Linked DNA regions of Homo sapiens: region 2 is linked to region 1. A link means that fine-mapping ties the variant in region 1 to the expression of a gene that starts in the linked region. Tissue or cell type: Th1 cells. Region 1 holds a variant in brackets; the other region holds the start of a gene. All regions are shown on one strand. Distances are between the middles of the regions.

What was found. PIP is the estimated chance that this variant, and not a neighbour inherited with it, causes the effect.
Region 2: it holds the start of CTC1, and the variant in region 1 is fine-mapped to the expression of CTC1 in Th1 cells (Schmiedel 2018, PIP 0.95).

Annotation. Positions count from the first base shown.
Region 1 is chr17:8,222,930-8,231,107 of GRCh38, reverse strand. It overlaps CTC1 (CST telomere replication complex component 1), which reads left to right. Exons shown (of 23, transcript NM_025099.6): 16 at 457-545; 17 at 640-814; 18 at 1,140-1,217; 19 at 1,662-1,806; 20 at 1,902-1,966; 21 at 2,216-2,381; 22 at 2,479-2,605; 23 at 2,789-6,293. The coding sequence ends at 2,928. It overlaps LINC00324 (long intergenic non-protein coding RNA 324), which reads left to right and starts at 7,065. Exons shown (of 3, transcript NR_026951.1): 1 at 7,065-7,296; 2 at 7,834-8,178. It overlaps TRT-AGT1-2 (tRNA-Thr (anticodon AGT) 1-2), which reads left to right and starts at 4,800; the gene lies at 4,800-4,873. It overlaps TRS-AGA2-6 (tRNA-Ser (anticodon AGA) 2-6), which reads left to right and starts at 4,417; the gene lies at 4,417-4,498. It also overlaps TRI-AAT4-1. RefSeq lists enhancers at 7,282-7,521, 7,772-7,901, 7,448-8,178. The variant T/G (reference allele first, on the strand shown) is at 3,559.
Region 2 is chr17:8,245,038-8,253,209 of GRCh38, reverse strand. CTC1 (CST telomere replication complex component 1) reads left to right here and starts at 5,154. Exons shown (of 23, transcript NM_025099.6): 1 at 5,154-5,206. The coding sequence starts at 5,174. It overlaps PFAS (phosphoribosylformylglycinamidine synthase), which reads right to left and starts at 3,921. Exons shown (of 28, transcript NM_012393.3): 1 at 3,871-3,921. RefSeq lists enhancers at 3,737-4,493, 4,618-4,737, 5,218-5,357 and a silencer at 5,078-5,127.

The DNA of each region.
Region 1 (8,178 bases):
GTGCAATGGCCTGATCTCAGCTCACTGAAACCTCTACTTCCCTGGTTCGAAGGATTATCCTGCATCAGCCTCCCAAATAGCTGGGATTATAGGGGTGCACGCCACCACACCCAGCTAGTTTTTTTGTATTTTTAGTAGAGACAGGGTTTCGTCATGTTGGCCAGGCTGGTCTTGAGTTCTTGACCTTAAGTGAGCCTCCCACCTCAGCCTCCCAAAGTGCTGGGATTTAGGGGCGTGAGCCACCTTGTGCGGGTTTTGAATGATCTGCCACAACCCTCTTTTTCCCATAGGCCCTGTTACTCTTAGTGTGCAGTGTGGCAGAGCTCAGGTTTTTTCAGGACTTTATATATGAAGTTCTAGCAGATACTTTAGCTCCATTTTCTGCCTTGAATCTGACTGTCTCCACTCTGTGCTTTCTTGTGCCTCCATTCTCAGTGTATTTCCCTGACCTTCCAGTTTCACAGATTCCTTGGTGTCTTTCTCCGCTGAGATTTTGTCACGGACACTATGTGAACCCCTTGTGGCGTCTCTCTGGATGAAACTGGGTAATGACCCTTCCTTTGTGGGGAAGGTATGAAATAGAGTGATGGGACTTTGTGGACTTCACAGATCCTACTAACACCCACCTTCCTTCTATAGGGAACACGGGGGCCATGAGAAGGTGTGTGAAGCTAACAGTCGCTCTTGAGACTGCTGAATGTGAATTCCCCCCTCACCTGGATGTATATATAGAAGACCCACACTTGCCTCCCTCACTAGGACTACTTCCAGGAGCCCGGGTCCACTTCAGCCAGTTGGAGAAAAGGGTTTCCAGGTGAAGATGTGTAGTGTCACCTGCCTCCTCTTGCTACTGATGTGGCTCTCTGGAATGTGCACCCCTGCTTAACTTTGCTGCAGCGACCCCTTCTCTTTCATACAGGTTTCCATATATCAGTCTGCCATTTGTGCCCAGCCAGTACCCTCACGAGGTGTTGCAGGCTGGTCCTCCTCCTAGTCTTCCCCTAGCTTTGGTAGAGCCATGGCTAGGATATGTCCCTCAGGGGGAGTGGCCACTCTGTGGTGCTTGATCTCTGAGTCCCAGCTTCTACCCCAATTTGCCTTGTCTTCCTGGTCACTCACTATTCCTCTTCCACTTGCAGATCTCACAATGTTTATTGTTGTTTCCGGTCATCCACTTATGTGCAGGTCCTGAGTTTTCCCCCTGAGACCACCATCAGGTCAGTGCCCAGACCCCAACCCCTAAACTTCCTGGCTTCACATCTGCATCTCCCACATGTCCCTGGTTCTGAAGATTTTGCCATCATTACAGTCTTCTCCAATCCCAACAAGATGTGTTGAGTCAGAGGAGCTTCTCTACTCCAAATAAAAAATGCTCTGTGTCTATCATTGTACCCAGAATCATTTAGTGTTCTAGGCTTTTGAAGGCTTTTCAGTCTTAACATGCAAATATTTCTTGGCTAACATCATGGTGTTCAAACCTGAAAAATAACCAATGACTATCAGAGATCAGGAATTAAAATGGGGCTTCTAGGAGCGCATGGAACCCACTGCTGTCCCCATCCTGATGCCCTCTAAGTCCTTCTAGACCCACCCTGCTTTCAGAACCCCTTTGCCTGTTCTGTTATCTTGACCCCTGTCTCTGTCTCCCTGTATTTATTTAGCATTCCCCTGCCCCACATCTACCTGGCTGAACTTCTGCAGGGTGGTCAGTCCCCATTCCAGGCCACTGCCTCTTGCCATATCGTCTCTGTCTTCAGCCTTCAGCTCTTCTGGGTGTGTGCTTATTGTACCAGCATCTGCCGGCAGGTAAGGGAGGGAAGGAACAGGCTGAACTGAGTATGGAGTGCCAGAGGGATGTGATGGGACCAAGAGGACTTTTCCAACCACTGTCTTCATCCCAGGGAAAGTGCACTCGCCTGGGCTCCACTTGCCCTACGCAGACAGCTATAAGCCAGGCCATCATCAGGTGAGAGCACAAGGCGTGCACCCATTGTGCCATTTACTTATGAGACCACTTTGTCTATCTGCAGTTTCTACATTAGCATAATTCCTGGCTCATGAGAATTGCTTAATATTTTTTGAACGAATGAATGAGGGTAAGCTCCTAAATCTGTGAGCCAAAGACTGCAGACAGCGGGGAGGGAGGCATGTTGGGTCCAGGGTGTTGGCAACCTGGGTTGCTATAGGCGTTTTTATTTCCTCCTGCTCCCCATAGGCTCCTGGTGGAGGATGGGACTGCCGAAGCCGTGGTGACCTGTAGGAATCACCATGTGGCAGCAGCACTAGGGCTGTGTCCTAGAGAGTGGGCCTCCCTCCTAGATTTCGTCCAAGTGCCAGGCAGAGTGGTCTTGCAGTTTGCAGGGCCTGGAGCCCAACTTGAGGTGTAATGTGGCTGGGAGGGAGGGACTCGGATACCCAAATTCCTGGGCTTTTGGCAAAGGGTTTAGGAGCCAGTTAACCTTGACCTTCTCTTTCTAGTCTTCAGCCAGGGTTGACGAGCCCATGACCATGTTCCTCTGGACACTTTGTACTAGCCCCTCTGTCCTCCGTCCTATTGTGCTTTCTTTTGAGCTGGAAAGGAAACCGTCGAAGATCGTCCCATTAGGTAAGGTTGGAGACGGGGGGATCATGATGATAGGGGGATCATGGTGATAGAGATAGATGGGTCCCTGGGAGGAAGAGGGATGAGGGACTGATGGGGAATTTCTGGAGTTAGGGAGGAGAATGGTGGGTGGGAACTAAAAGCCACATGCCTGAGACGTGTGTTTTTCCTCTCTTCCCACCTCAGAACCTCCTCGGCTACAGCGATTCCAGTGTGGAGAGCTCCCTTTCCTGACTCACGTGAACCCCAGGCTCCGATTGTCCTGCCTTTCTATCCGAGAGTCAGAGTACTCCAGCTCTCTGGGGATCCTTGCTTCCTCCTGTTAACTGAACTGCAAGGATGGCCTGAGAGTCCTTCCTTGCTGAAAACCTGAAGGCCTAGGTCCTGGCTCCTCTCCCTACTTGTTCTGTGATTGAACCAAGGACTCCAGATTCACAAACTGCTACTCCACTATAATTTCCCTTCTTTGGTGTTCTGGTGCCAGCCTGCCTTGGCAAAATTGTGGCAACAGGAAATCATGGCCCTATTAATATGTCCTCTGATTGGGACAAGGCACCTGCATTCACAGGCGGCCCTGAGCACCTGGGTTCTGACTTTGTCGCAGGAGCTGAGGGAACAAAAGACTTGCTCGCTGTGGGGTGATGGTGACAGGCCTATTGACCTGCAATGAAGCCCTCTGGTGTCATTTCTCACTGGTACTCATCTCTGGGGTCCCAGGCCTCCTGACTCCTAGTTGTCCACCTCCTAGGAACTCCTAGTCGTTCATCATCATTTCAGCCCTTTGCCGCCAGGGCCAAAGGTGGAAAGTGATTTGGAAGAGAAGAGCTTTTCGTCCAGCAGAAGAAATGGTACCAAAATCAGTCTGTAAAGGAAGTAAATTGGGGAGTTGGCGGCAAGGCAGAGAGCATAGCTATGATGGTCTCAGTCAGTAAGGCTGGGCCCTGCAGGAAGTCAAA[T/G]ATGAATGCCTAGAGGTGTTCACAAGCACAAAGAAGGTGTAGGGGGAGGCAAGTGCCAGGCACAAGCAGGGGCAGGTGAGGACTCTGGGTGACTGTGCTATAGGGCCCCAGGCTACGGTTAGCCCTGTAGGTTTCCCAAGGGCCTGGCCTAAGGCAGATCCTTGATCGATATACCTTGAGACCAGAAGGTGCTCCGAAATCACAACCGTACAATTAGGGGATCTAGGAACAATTCTTTGGAGATACCAATGCCTTTGGCTGGTGTTGCTGCATTTCTTTACTGGGGACTGATAGATGGAGAGGTGGAAAGATGAGCTGAGGCACATCTTTCAGAGCTACTGGGAGGCCATTTCTTCCTGGCTGTTAGGATTTGTTCGTGTTTGGGAGACCTTTAGAGCGTGGTTAAACCCATATGTTGGGATTTATGCTGCTTTTATGGTAGCAATACCCTATATTAAGATTTGAAGTAGACCCGGAAAGTTAGTGGCCGGTTAGCTCAGTTGGTTAGAGCGTGGTGCTAATAACGCCAAGGTCGCGGGTTCGAACCCCGTACGGGCCAGTGGGTGGCTTTTTTTTGTGTGTGTTTTGTTTTCTGACCCTCTGCTGTTATCCGGAAGTTTCTACCCGGAGCCAGTTGCCTTCTGGTAACAGAATTATATTGCACCTACTGCTTCCTATTCCCTGAATCACTAGCGCTCCCGAAGGCTTGGAGGGAGGAGTCTCTGGGCACCCGGGTGAAAGGAAGGTTCACGTGCAACCGCCGCGTCTTTTTTTCCCTGAAGCGCTTTCATGGAGGCAGATGTTTGTCAGTCAAGGGAAGTAAGAAAGGCATTGGATGAAAACGAAGCCCTAAGCCTCGTAGTCGTGGCCGAGTGGTTAAGGCGATGGACTAGAAATCCATTGGGGTCTCCCCGCGCAGGTTCGAATCCTGCCGACTACGTCATATTTTTTTCTTCAGCATACTGACCATATTTCTCTCCAGGATGGGATGATCCAGTCGGCACCCTCCAAACCTCTCATCTAGGAACTCTAGAATCGAGAATTTGATTTAGAGTCTATGATTTTGGTTTGAAATCTATGATTAACGTCTTTGGACATTGAAGGAAATCCGAGGAATGGACAAGTGATGCAAGAGCCAGTTGAGTTACCAAATTAGTTCTAGAAAGATCTGAAAAAGCTCGGTCCGGGTTCCTAGCTCTATATTCTTGTAGATGAATTTCAGGAACCTTTATGGCAGCTTCGGCGCCGTGGCTTAGTTGGTTAAAGCGCCTGTCTAGTAAACAGGAGATCCTGGGTTCGAATCCCAGCGGTGCCTTTATTCAATTGAAACAGCGTGATTTTGCGGCTAAATCCACATCCTTTCATGTATTGTTTTTATATCAGAACGCGTAAGAGTTTCTGTTCTGCACTCATAGCACCCACATTTCCTGCAGAGTCAAGCTGCCACTCCCATGAGATCGCCACTCTAAAAGGTGGTTCTCTAACTTAGGGGCAGAAATGTTGCATAGGCCTAAGGGTCCTTTGCTTAACTGATGCCACACCCCACTGGTGCAGGTGGACTGGGTCAGGCGGCCGCCCCACCCTCGATGGAAGGGGCTGCCCACCTTCCAGGCCTCTTTCTCCACCCTAGGACGTCCCCTAGAACCTGAGCCACTTTGTTTTGTTTGGCTCTTCATTATAGTTCTTTGGGTTTGGTGGCTCATAATGTTATATATATAGTATATAATATAAAAATATATATTTAAATATACAGTATTTAAAATTTGGCACAGCTTCCAGATGCGGTCCTCTAACTGGTCTTTCACTTGCAGTTACCTCCATCCCTCTCCACCAGCGGGATGTCAGGGTAAGGAGTAAGCAGGGATCCGGCTGGCCTGGCCTGGCCTGGCACCAGGTTTCGTGCAGCAGGGTGCAGAAGGGCTGAGGCCATGTGAACAGAGTCCAAGAAAGCATCATTCGGGAGTCGCTAGGGATCCTGGTGTGGAAGGGCAGGGCACTTTTCTGGAGCACTGAAGCTAGGCTGGTTAAGGAAGAAATAAATGCCAGAGATAAGGCAAGAAATAGGATCTGTGAGCTCTTGGCAGGACCTAAACCTCCTTGGAAGATAGGCAGAAAGCTCTCGACACCATTCCATGGCCCACGAACCAATGTAAGATGAGCAAATGGCTTGAAGGAATTGCTACCTCCAGGTCAAGCCAGGGATGCAGCACTGCCGAGACCACGTTTGTGCCAAGCACTGGGCTGGACCCTGTGCAGAACCAAATGAACAAGGCACGTTCCCCTTTCAGCACTAACGGCACTGTAAGAACAGGGAGAAGTGGAATCTAATCTGGCCTGAGGGTAGAGGGTGATCAGCTAAGTCTGAAACACCATGTAGAAACTTGCCATGTATGGCCGGGCGCGGTGGCTCACGCCTGTAATCCCAGCGCTTTGGGAGGCCAAGGTGGGCGGATCACGAGGTCAGGAGTTCCAGACCAGCAGCCTGGCCAACATAGTGAAACCTGGTAACATAGTGAAACCTCGTCTCTACTAAAAATGCAAAAAATTAGCCAGGCGTGGTGGCAGGCGCCTGCAGTCCTAGCTACTTGGGAGGCTGAGGCAAGAGAATCGCTTCAACCTTGGAGGGGGGAGGAGGTGTTGTCAGCCGAGATCGCGCCACTGCATCCCAGCCTGGGCAACAAGAGTGAAACTCCGTCTCAAAAAAATGAAATAAAATAAACGAATGATCAGCTGTTTGTTAGTTCTTGGTTATTAAAAGTGGGGTCTATGTACGCACTTTTCTGAGGAAAAAATAAAGTGTGGGGTATGTGGATGGGATTATGTGTGAACTCCCTGGATTGTATACATGTTTAGGAAGAGGGCCATAGCTTTTTTTTTTTTTTTTTTTTTTTGAGACGGAGGGAGTCTCATTCTGTCACCCAGGCTGGAGTGCAATGGCACAATATTGACTCACTGCAACCTCCGCTTCCCGGGTTCAAGCAATTCTCCTGCCTCAGTCTCCCGAGTAGCTGGGATTACAGGCGCCCGCCACCACGCCTGGCTAATTTTTGTATATTTAGTAGAGACGGGGTTTCACCATTTTGGTCAGGCTGGTCTTGAACTCCTGACCTTGTGATCCACCCACCTCAGCCTCCCAAAGTGCTGGGATTACAGGTGTGAGCCACTGTGCCCGGTGAAGAGGGACATAGCTTTCATAAGGGTCATAAAGGATTTAGGCCTCCCCTTCTGCAGCGTTTAAGTGCCTGAGGCCAGGGAAGAGGTGACTGGATTATTTTGCAGAGAAAGCTGGGGCCCAAGGGGAGGGAGACAGGAATTGGAAAAGGGTAGGAATGGGGGAGGAGATGCCAGATCAGCCCTGAGAACCTCTTTACCCATCTCAAAGACTTGGGACACTAATGGGAAAGGCTGGGCTAACTTCTGCTGCCCTTCCCCACTGTCTGTCCAGGGGAACCTGGGAAAGACAAATAGGAGCTGAATCCTTCACTGAAAGCCCCGTCATCGTATCTATGGGTTGGGCATTAGGAACGGCCTGGCCCCACAAATCACACAACTGGGGTGTAGAACAAAATGGTTCCACAGATGACACCAGGCTGGTCCAGGGCCGATGCAGGCCAGAACCCCGCTGGGAGGACTCCCCAGAACAGGCACTGAGCTGAGGAAAGGCAGGACACGTGGTCTGCTACCGACCCCACCAGATCTTGCTGGGACTCTGGGCAGCTCCGGAGTAAGAGCAGCATGGTGAGTGTTTAAGAGCGCAGAGGCTCACTGGGCAGTCCCGGGGACACTGCTAAGTCCCCAAACCGGGTCTACAGGCCTTCGACCACATTCATGCGGCCACGTGCCTCAGAGCCTTCGGGGGGTCTTAGGAGGCAGGCAGGAGGGTCTCCCTTCTAGGCCATTCTAGGAGGGGACTGGGGAGCAGAGGTTAGACTGTAGGGTAGGGGTAACCTGATCTTACAGTCCGGAAGCCATGAGACTAGTCGCCTGGCCTTGCGCCCCGCCCCACTGCAGGGTGGAAAGCCTGTCCCCCTCCAGTCACCCAGCTCAATAACGCCCTCTTCCGTGGGTCTTCTGGGCCCCAGAAATCGTTCCCTCTTTCCCTCGCTTGGGTACTGCCATGCGGTCTGGGGAACCCGTGGACTATCGATGGGTCTGGCCCAGGGTTTGCCCTGCCCGTTAGCCCAGGAGGATAGACAGACACGGGGCACTGGTGTTCCCCTAGTGATTTCTCCTGCCCGTCCCGAAAGCAAGCAATTCCACCGCTTCTCTTCAAAGCTCTGCAACGAAGAGCTAGGTCCAAGGACCGCAGGCGGAGGCAGGAAGTGTCAAGATCCCAGGTTACGGAATGGCACCAAGTCGGTAACCAAAGGAAGCAACAACCCGGGTGTTCAAGGCAGTCGTGCAAGGCGGCGCGGGGGCGAGGCCGAGGCCACTCCCTCCCACTTCCTTGACGCTATTTCCTGGGAGGAGCCGGAGCTCGCGGCCCGGAGCCAAGAGATTCCCAGCCCAGTGCTCCAAAATACTCGGCCTGGGGGAGGCTGGTCCGTGAGCGTGCGCCCGGACCGTTCCGCCATGCATAGTGGACCCAGCACTACAGCAAGCCTGGCACGACCTCTAAGG
Region 2 (8,172 bases), 22 kb before region 1:
AGTACCCAGACATTTCCAGTCCCGTGTGGTGAAGGTCAGGGGACTGTGGACACCAATCCTGCACTTCAGGTGTCAGGAAAAATTTCCTGAGAGAAATGGTATCAGCCATGGATTGAATGTTTGTGTATCTCCCCCTCCCAATTCATATATTGAAACCCTAATCCTCAATGTTATGGTATTTGGAGGTGGGGCCTCTGGGACGTAATTAGGTCATGAAAGTGGAACTCTCAAGAATGAGCTACTAATCTCACCAAACCTCTTATAATCTGCCCTTATAAGAAGAGGCCAGATTGGGCGGGGCATAGTGGCTAACACCTGTAATCTTAGCCCTTTGGAGGCTGAGGTGGGAGGATTGAGCACAGGCGTTCGAGACCAACCTGGGCAACATGGCAAAAACCCCATCTCTCTCAAAAAAGATACAAAAATTTGCTGGGTGTGCTGGCATGTGCCTGTAGTCCCAGCAACTAGGGAGGCTGAGGTGGGAAGATCACTTGAGCCTGGGGAGGCGGAGGCTGCAGTGAGCAGTGATCAAGCCGCTGCACTCCAGCCTGGGCAACACAGTGAGAACTTGAGATCAGGAGTTCCAGACCAGCCTGACCAACATGGTGAAACCTCATCTCTACTAAAAAAAATACAAAATTAGCCGGGCGTGGTGATGCGTGCCTGTAATCACAGCTAATTGAGAGGCTGAGGCAGGAGAATCACTCGAACCCGGGAGGCGGAAGTTGCAGTGAGCTGAGATCGAGCCATTGCACTCCAGCCTGGGCAACAAGAGTGAAACTCTGTCTCAAAACAAACAAAAACAAACAAACAAAAAAGGATCTCTGATCACAAAGCTTTTGTTTAAGAATTTATTGCTTGATGATATCATGTCATAAATTATTTATTTATTTATTTATTTTCTTTTTCTTTTTTTTTGAGATGGATTCACTCTGTCACCCAGGCTGGAGTGCAGTGGCACAATCTGGGCTCTCTGCAACTTCTGCCACCTGGGTTCAAGCAATTCTCCTGCCTCAGCCTCCCAAGTAGCTGAGATTACAGGCATGCGCCACCACGCCCAGCTAATTTTTGTATTATTAGTAGAGACGGGGTTTCCCTATGTTCGCCAGGCTGGTCTCCAACTCCTGACCTCAAGTGATCTGCCCGCCTCGGACTCCCAAAGCGTTGGGATTACAGGCGTGCGCCACCATTCCGACCCATAAATTATTAAAACAAAAAAAAAGAATTGCTTAAGCAGGGCTGGGCATGGTGGCTCACATCTGTAATCCTAGCACTTTAGGAGGCCAAGAGGGGCAGATCACTTGAGGTCAGGAGTTCAAGACCAACCTGGCCAACGTGGTGAAACCCTGTCTCTATTAAAAATACAAAAAATTAGCCGGGCGTGGTGGCAAGCACCTGTAGTCCCAGCTACTCGGGAGGCTGAGGCAGGAGAATCACTGGAACCTGGGAAGCAGAGGTTGCAGTGAGCCAAGATTGAGCCATTGCACTCCAGCCTGGGTGACAGAGTAAGACTCTGACTCAAAAAAAAAAAAAAAAAAAAAGAATTGCTTAAGCAGATCCTGAATTCCAGCAGAACAGCTGACTCCACCAGCTCAAAGACTCCCACAGAAGCCAGGAGCAGTGGCTCACGCCTATAATCCCAATGCCTGTAATCCCAGCACTTTGGGAGGCCAAAGCAGTGGACTGCTTGAGCCCAGGAGTTTGAGACCAGCCCTGGGCAACATGGTAAGACCCTGTCTTTATAAAAAAAAAAATTAAAAATTAGTGGGGCATGGTGGCATGTACCTGTGGTCCCAGCTACTCAAGAGGCTGAGGTAAGAGGATCGCTTGAGCCCATGAGTTTGAGGCTGCAGTGAGCTACGATTGTGCCACTGCACTCCAGCCTGGGTGACAGAGCAAGACCCCGTCTTTCTTTTTCTTTTTTTGAGATGGGGTCTCACTCTGTTGCCAGGCTGGAGTACAGTGGCACGATCTCGGCTCACTGCAACCTCTGCCTTGCGGGTTCACGCGATTCTCCTGCCTCGGTCTCCCGAGTAGCTGAGACTACAGGTGCACACCACCATGACCAGCTAATTTTTGTATTTTTAGTAGAGATGGGGTTTCACCATGTTCGCCAGGATGGTCTCAATCTCTTGAACTCGTGATCCACCCACCTCAGCCTCCCAAAGTGCTGGGATTATAGGCGTGAGCGACTGCGCCAGGCAGACCTCATCTTTCAAATTAAAAAAAATAAAAAAAAAAAAAGACTCCCACAGTGGAACCAAGTGAGCATGAGAATCAGTTTCTTCATCTCCCTGTTTCATGACCTCACCCTGCACTCTTCAATCAATGATTTTCACACTTCATCCTAATCCTATTCCAAACTCTTTTTTAAAAACCCTAGCCCCAAAGTACTCTGGGAGATGGATTTGAGGTTTCCTCCTGTCTCCTTGTTCAGCAGCCCTATGATTAAACCTCTTTCTCTGCTGCAACCTGGTGTCTTGGTGTATTGACCTCCAGTGTGCATCAGGCAACAGAACTATTACAGTTAATACTTTTAGCCTAACATTCAAAGGCCCTCCCCATCTATCCCAAACTACCTATCCAATTTCTGGTCCCACTGCCTCTCAGCGGGACCCTGGCTTTACTCACCAAACTCTGCTGTTCCCCTAGTCTTGCCACTCAGTAAACACTACCATCATCCAATTTGTTGCTCAAGACAAAAACACAGAAGTCATCCTTAATTCTCTTTCCCTCAGACTCTCTAAATCCAATCCACCAGGAAATCTATTTCCAATCATGTCTCAAATCTCTCATCTCTTCATCTCTACTACCTCACTCTAGTTCAAGTAAGCCACCACCATCACTCACCTGGACCAATGCATTAACCTCCTGACCACTGCATAACCACAATTCATTTGTCACACATCAGCATAAAGTGGATTATGGCTTCCCATTACACATGGTATAAATTCCAACTCAGCATCCTGGTTTACCAAGTCTGGCCACTCTCTGGCCTACCTTTCCAACCCTATCTCACACCATTCTCTTTTTCACCCACAATGCACCAACCACACATTAGCTTCTTTTTTATTTCTCTAACTTGCCAAGCTCAGTCCTGGAAGGCATTTTTTTCACCCTGACATATGCATGGCTAGCTCTTGTTATTTAGATTTCTGGTGATTCGCCTTCGTGGAAAAGGCTTCACTAGCCACTCAAGTAGTTACTATCAGATGGCCGGCCCTATTTTAATTTCCTGTAAAGCGCTTATCACTATTGGATGTTTTTATTTTTCGCTCTATATTCCCCACTAGAAAAAAAATCTCTACGTGGGCATGGGATGTTGCTGCTTCGTTTCCATTGAATTACCAAGGCTTAGAACAATACCAGGGCTTGAAACGCAAAAAAATTCTAAAACTTGTGGAATGACTTAATGAACTCTTGATTCTCACCACTCTTCAGCCCCTCCCCAACTTTCAGGACAGTCTTCCTGAAGGCATTTTGTTTATTAAGCCACTTGATTTCCGTCTATCATTCCCAGTAAAATATAAGCTTCAAGAGCTCAGAGACAGGGTTTGCGTGCATGAGGGCTGTATTCCATGACCAGCATGGTGCCTGATATAAAGTAGGCGGCCGGCAGTCTTTCTGTTAGCTGAATCCATGAATGGGACAATGGGGCTAAATTTACATGGGGGTCGGCCATGCCTGGGGTCTGCGGAACGCACGCAAGATAGGACGAATGGACGCCTCCACTAAAGCAAATACGCGGGCACCAAGTAGACACAGCTCGGCCCGGTGGGGATACTGAAGCCGCCAGACCAAGCTTGGGCTAGATGACGAAACGCTGCACCTGGAGGAGGATCCAGGTCCGCACGCGGTAACTATACTCACGTGGAAGATGCACTCGCGGCCACAGAGCACCTCGAATCGTCGCGCGCGTTTGTTACGTCATCCGCGTGCGCCGCGGGCAGAGACTGGACCTGCCAGCGCCGGGGCGACTACGCCCCGCCCACTTTTCCCCAGCCACCCGGCCGAATTCTAGGTTCTTGGTGGGGAGAGGTTTATCCCCAGGTGGTTTCTCCCACAAATCTGTCTTGAACTGACGTTTGTGAAAATACATTCAGTTCCCCGTCCCCGCGGGGACAGTTAAGTAATGACATCAGTTAGTTAAGGCCATAAAGCAAGCATGTGAAAGTTGTGCTTTGGTGGCATTACGAGGAAGCCCTTCTCTGCTTGGCAAGATCAGGGAGACTGAAAGATGCTTAGAAGTCATCCACCAGGCGGGCTGTGTTTGAGTTCCTGAGCTCTGCTACCCCATCCATCTGAAGGCCTGCGGGATGCCGGACAGGATGTCACTTAGGAGGGAGACGGAGGCTGGGCGCGGTGGCTCCCGCCTGTAATCCGAGCACTTTGGGAGCCCGAGGCGGGCAGATCGCTTGAGCCCAGGAGTTCGAGACCAGTCTGGGCAACATGGCGAAACCATGTCGCTACAGAAAAATACAAAAATTAGCCGGGTGTGGCGGTGCAAGCCTGCGATCCCAGCTACTTGGTGGGCTGAGGTGGGAGGATCGCTTGAGCCCGGGAGGTCGAGGCTGCAGTGAACCGAGATGGCGCCGCTGCACTCCAGCCTGGGCGATAGAGCGAGACCTCGTCTCAAAAAAATCAGAGAGGGCCAGGGGCTGTGTTTCACGCCTGTAATCCCAGCACTTTGGGAGGCTGAGGCGGGTGGATCACCTGAGGTCAGGAGTTTGAGACCAGCCTGGCCACATGGTGAAACCCCGTCTCTACTAAAAATACAAAAAAAAAAAAAAAAAAAAAAATTAGCCGGGCGTGGTGGTGGCAGGTGCCTGTAATCCTAGCTACTCAGGAGGCTGAGGCCGGAAAATCCCTTGAACCTGGGAGGCGGGGGTTGCAGTGAGCCGAGATCGCGCCACTGCACTCCAGCCTGGGCGACAGAACCAGGCTTCGTCTTAAAAAAAAAAAAATCAGAGAAAAGAGACAGGGGTGTCGGGAGTTGGGATGGTGCACCGAGGCGCCTCGCGGAGTCTCTAGGAAGCGAGGGGGTGAGCAGCGAGAAGGAGCTGGAGGTGGCGAGGAAACCCGCTCACCGGTGACGTCACCGAGCGCCCCCCCACCCCCATCCCCACCCCCAAGCGAGCACCTGCCCCTCCCGGGGGCGGAGCTCCGGCGCATCATGGCGGCTGGCCGGGCCCAGGTCCCTTCCTCCGTGAGTGCTGCTATTACGTCTCTTGTTCCTTTTTTCTTGTTTGTCACAGATACTCTTTCTCTTCCTATTTCCTCTGCCTTGTCTCTCTGGGCTCGCTGGCCGCGTCCGGCCCATGGGTGAGGGGGTTGTGAGTCGGTCCGCTCCTACCTCTTACTGGTTCTGCGAATGTTTATTCCCTCATTCACGCGGCGCCCGCTGTGAGCCTTAAACTGGTCTCCGTTCACTCTCTAGGGTTTAATCCTGGTGGGAAACCAGGAGCAGGTTAATGGGGGAACTATGGGGCTGTGGGTTCCTGGAGAAGACCCTTGACGGAGCTGTAGGGGAAAAGGGCAACCATAATAAGTAAAAGCGTCTGAGACCCGAAGTGCGTGTAGAAGGCAAAAAGCGCCGAAAGGGGCTGGGTGTGGTGGCTCACGCTTGTAATCCAGCACTGTGGGAGGCGGAGGCGGGCGGATTACTTGAGGTCAGGAGTTCGAGACCAGCCTGACCAACATGGTGAAACCTCATCTCTACTAAAAATACAAAAATTAGCCGGGCGTGGTGGCGCGCACCTGTAATTCCAGCTACTCAGAAGGTTGAGGCAGGAGAATCGCTTGAACCGGGTAGACGGAGGCTGCAGTGAGCTGAGATTGTGCCACAGCACTCCAGCCTGGGCAACAGAGCGAGACTCTGTCAAAAAAAAAAAAAAAAAAAAAAAAGCGCCGGAAGGGGTTTCAGGACGGAAGCAAACACATATTCAAAGGCAGGAGGATAGAGCAGGTGTCTGAAAAACTCAAAAGTTCAGTTGGGTGGTGGTGGAGGGGTCAGAGCTGACAGTTTTGTACCTCTTGCTAAGCAGCGACTTTAACATGAGGGTAATTGGGTGTGGTGGCACACGCCGGTAATCCCAGCTGCTCAGGAAGCTGAGCAGGGAACCACGGAAGTGGAGGTTGCAGTGAGCCGAGATCGCGCCACTGCACTCTAGCCTGGACGACAGAGCCAGACTCCATCTCAAATAAATAAATAAATAAATAAATAAATAAATAAATAAATAAATAAGATGTTAAGAAAATACAATCTAAAGGATTGGTTTGTGTGCGTGTGTGTGTGTGTGTGTTTTGAGACGGAGTCTAGCTTTGTCACCAGGCTGGAGTGCAGTGACGCGATCTCGGCTCACTGCAACCTCTGCCTCCCAGGTTCAAGCGATTCTTCTGCCTCAGCCTCCCGAGTAGCTGGAATTACAGGCATACAGGCACGCGCCGCCATGCCCAGCTCATTTTTGTATTTTTTTTCTTTTTTTTAAGTACAGACGGTGTTTCACCATGTTAGCCAGGATGGTCTCGATCTCCTGACGTCGTGATCTGCCCGCCTTGGCCTCCGAAACTGCTGGGATTACAGGCGTGAGCCACTGCACCCAGCCAGGACTGGGACCTATGTAGGGAAAGGAAGGAGCTAAGGAGGACATCTAGGTTTCAGGATAGAACAACTGTTTGGTTAAGGGTACTATTTGCTAAGTTAGTGAACATAACACTAGAAGAGTTCTAGAAAAGGACAGGGTTTTGTGGAAAGTTCAGTGTTGGGCATGTGTGCTGCCTGTGGATTGGCCATGGAGAGTCTGGCAGATGGATAGGACTAAAGCTCAGGAATGAGATCTCAGCTAAAGTAGACATACAGGAACAATCATCATCTGGCCATGGCTGTTAAACCCATGCAGTGGTTGAGATAATTGTGGGAAAGCATATTGTGTTCTTAAACTTCAGCCTGTATTAATCTGGATCTTCCTCTTCCTCCCTCCTTTTTTTTTTTTTTTTTTTTTTTGAAACAAGGTCTTACTCTGTCACCCAGGCTAGAGTGCAGTGGCACCATCATGGCTCACTGCAGCCTCAACCTCCCTGGGCTCAAGCGATCCTCCCACCTCAGCCTCCCAAGTAGCTGGGACTACTGGCGTGTGCTACCACGCCAGGCTAACCCAGCTAATTTTGAATTGTTTTAGAGTTTCACCATGTTGCCCAGGCGGGTCTCAACCTTCCCAGGCTAAGGTGATCCTCCCACCTCAGCCTCCCAAGTAGCTGGGACTACTGGCATGTGCTACCACGCCAGGCTAATCCAGCTAATTTTGAATTGTTTTAGAGTTTCACCATGTTGCCCAGGCGGGTCTCAACCTTCCCAGGCTCAGGTGATCCTCCCACCTCAGCCTCCCGAGTAGCTGGGACTACAGGCACGAGCCACCATGCCCAGCTAATTTTTCTTTTTTGTAGAGACGGGTCTTTGCCTTGTTGCCCAGACTAGTAGTGAACTACTGGGCTCGAGCGATCCACCTTGGCCCCCCAGAGTGCTGGGATTACAGGCGAGAGCCACCACATCCAGTCTGCTCCATTTTTACTCAGTAGATGAAAACACGAATTTGCCTTTTTAACAAAACTTAGGTAATTTTACCTTGAAGCCATGGGATCACTTTGAGAGACAGTCGTATTCAGTGCACCAAGCAAAGGATAGGCCATCCGAGAAACAGGAACTACAAAAGAATACTGGGAGAGGAAGACAAAAAGCGTGAGAGTCGGAACTTTGCTTATACTGGTGGGGCAACTCTGAATGGTGATTTGGTCTGCCTTCCACAACTCTGACCATGAATGAGTGTGTGGCTGAAGTGGGCTGAAAGTCAGTGGTAGGGCTGTCCACAAGGATGCTGAAGACATCTAGAACTTGAAGACTTTTTTTTCCTTTTAACTTTTATTTTAGATTCAGGGGGACGTGCGCAGGTTTATTATGTAGGTAACCTCATGTCATGGGGGTTTGGTATAGAGATTATTTCGTCACCCCTGTACTAAGCATAGTACTTGATGGGTATTTTTTCCAATCTCTCTCTTCCCACCCTCAAGTAGGACCCAGTGTCTGTTATTTCCCTCTTTGTGTTCACGTGTTCTCGTTATTTAGCTCCCACTTATAAGTGGGAACAAACATGCAGTATTTGGTTTTCTGTTCTTGGA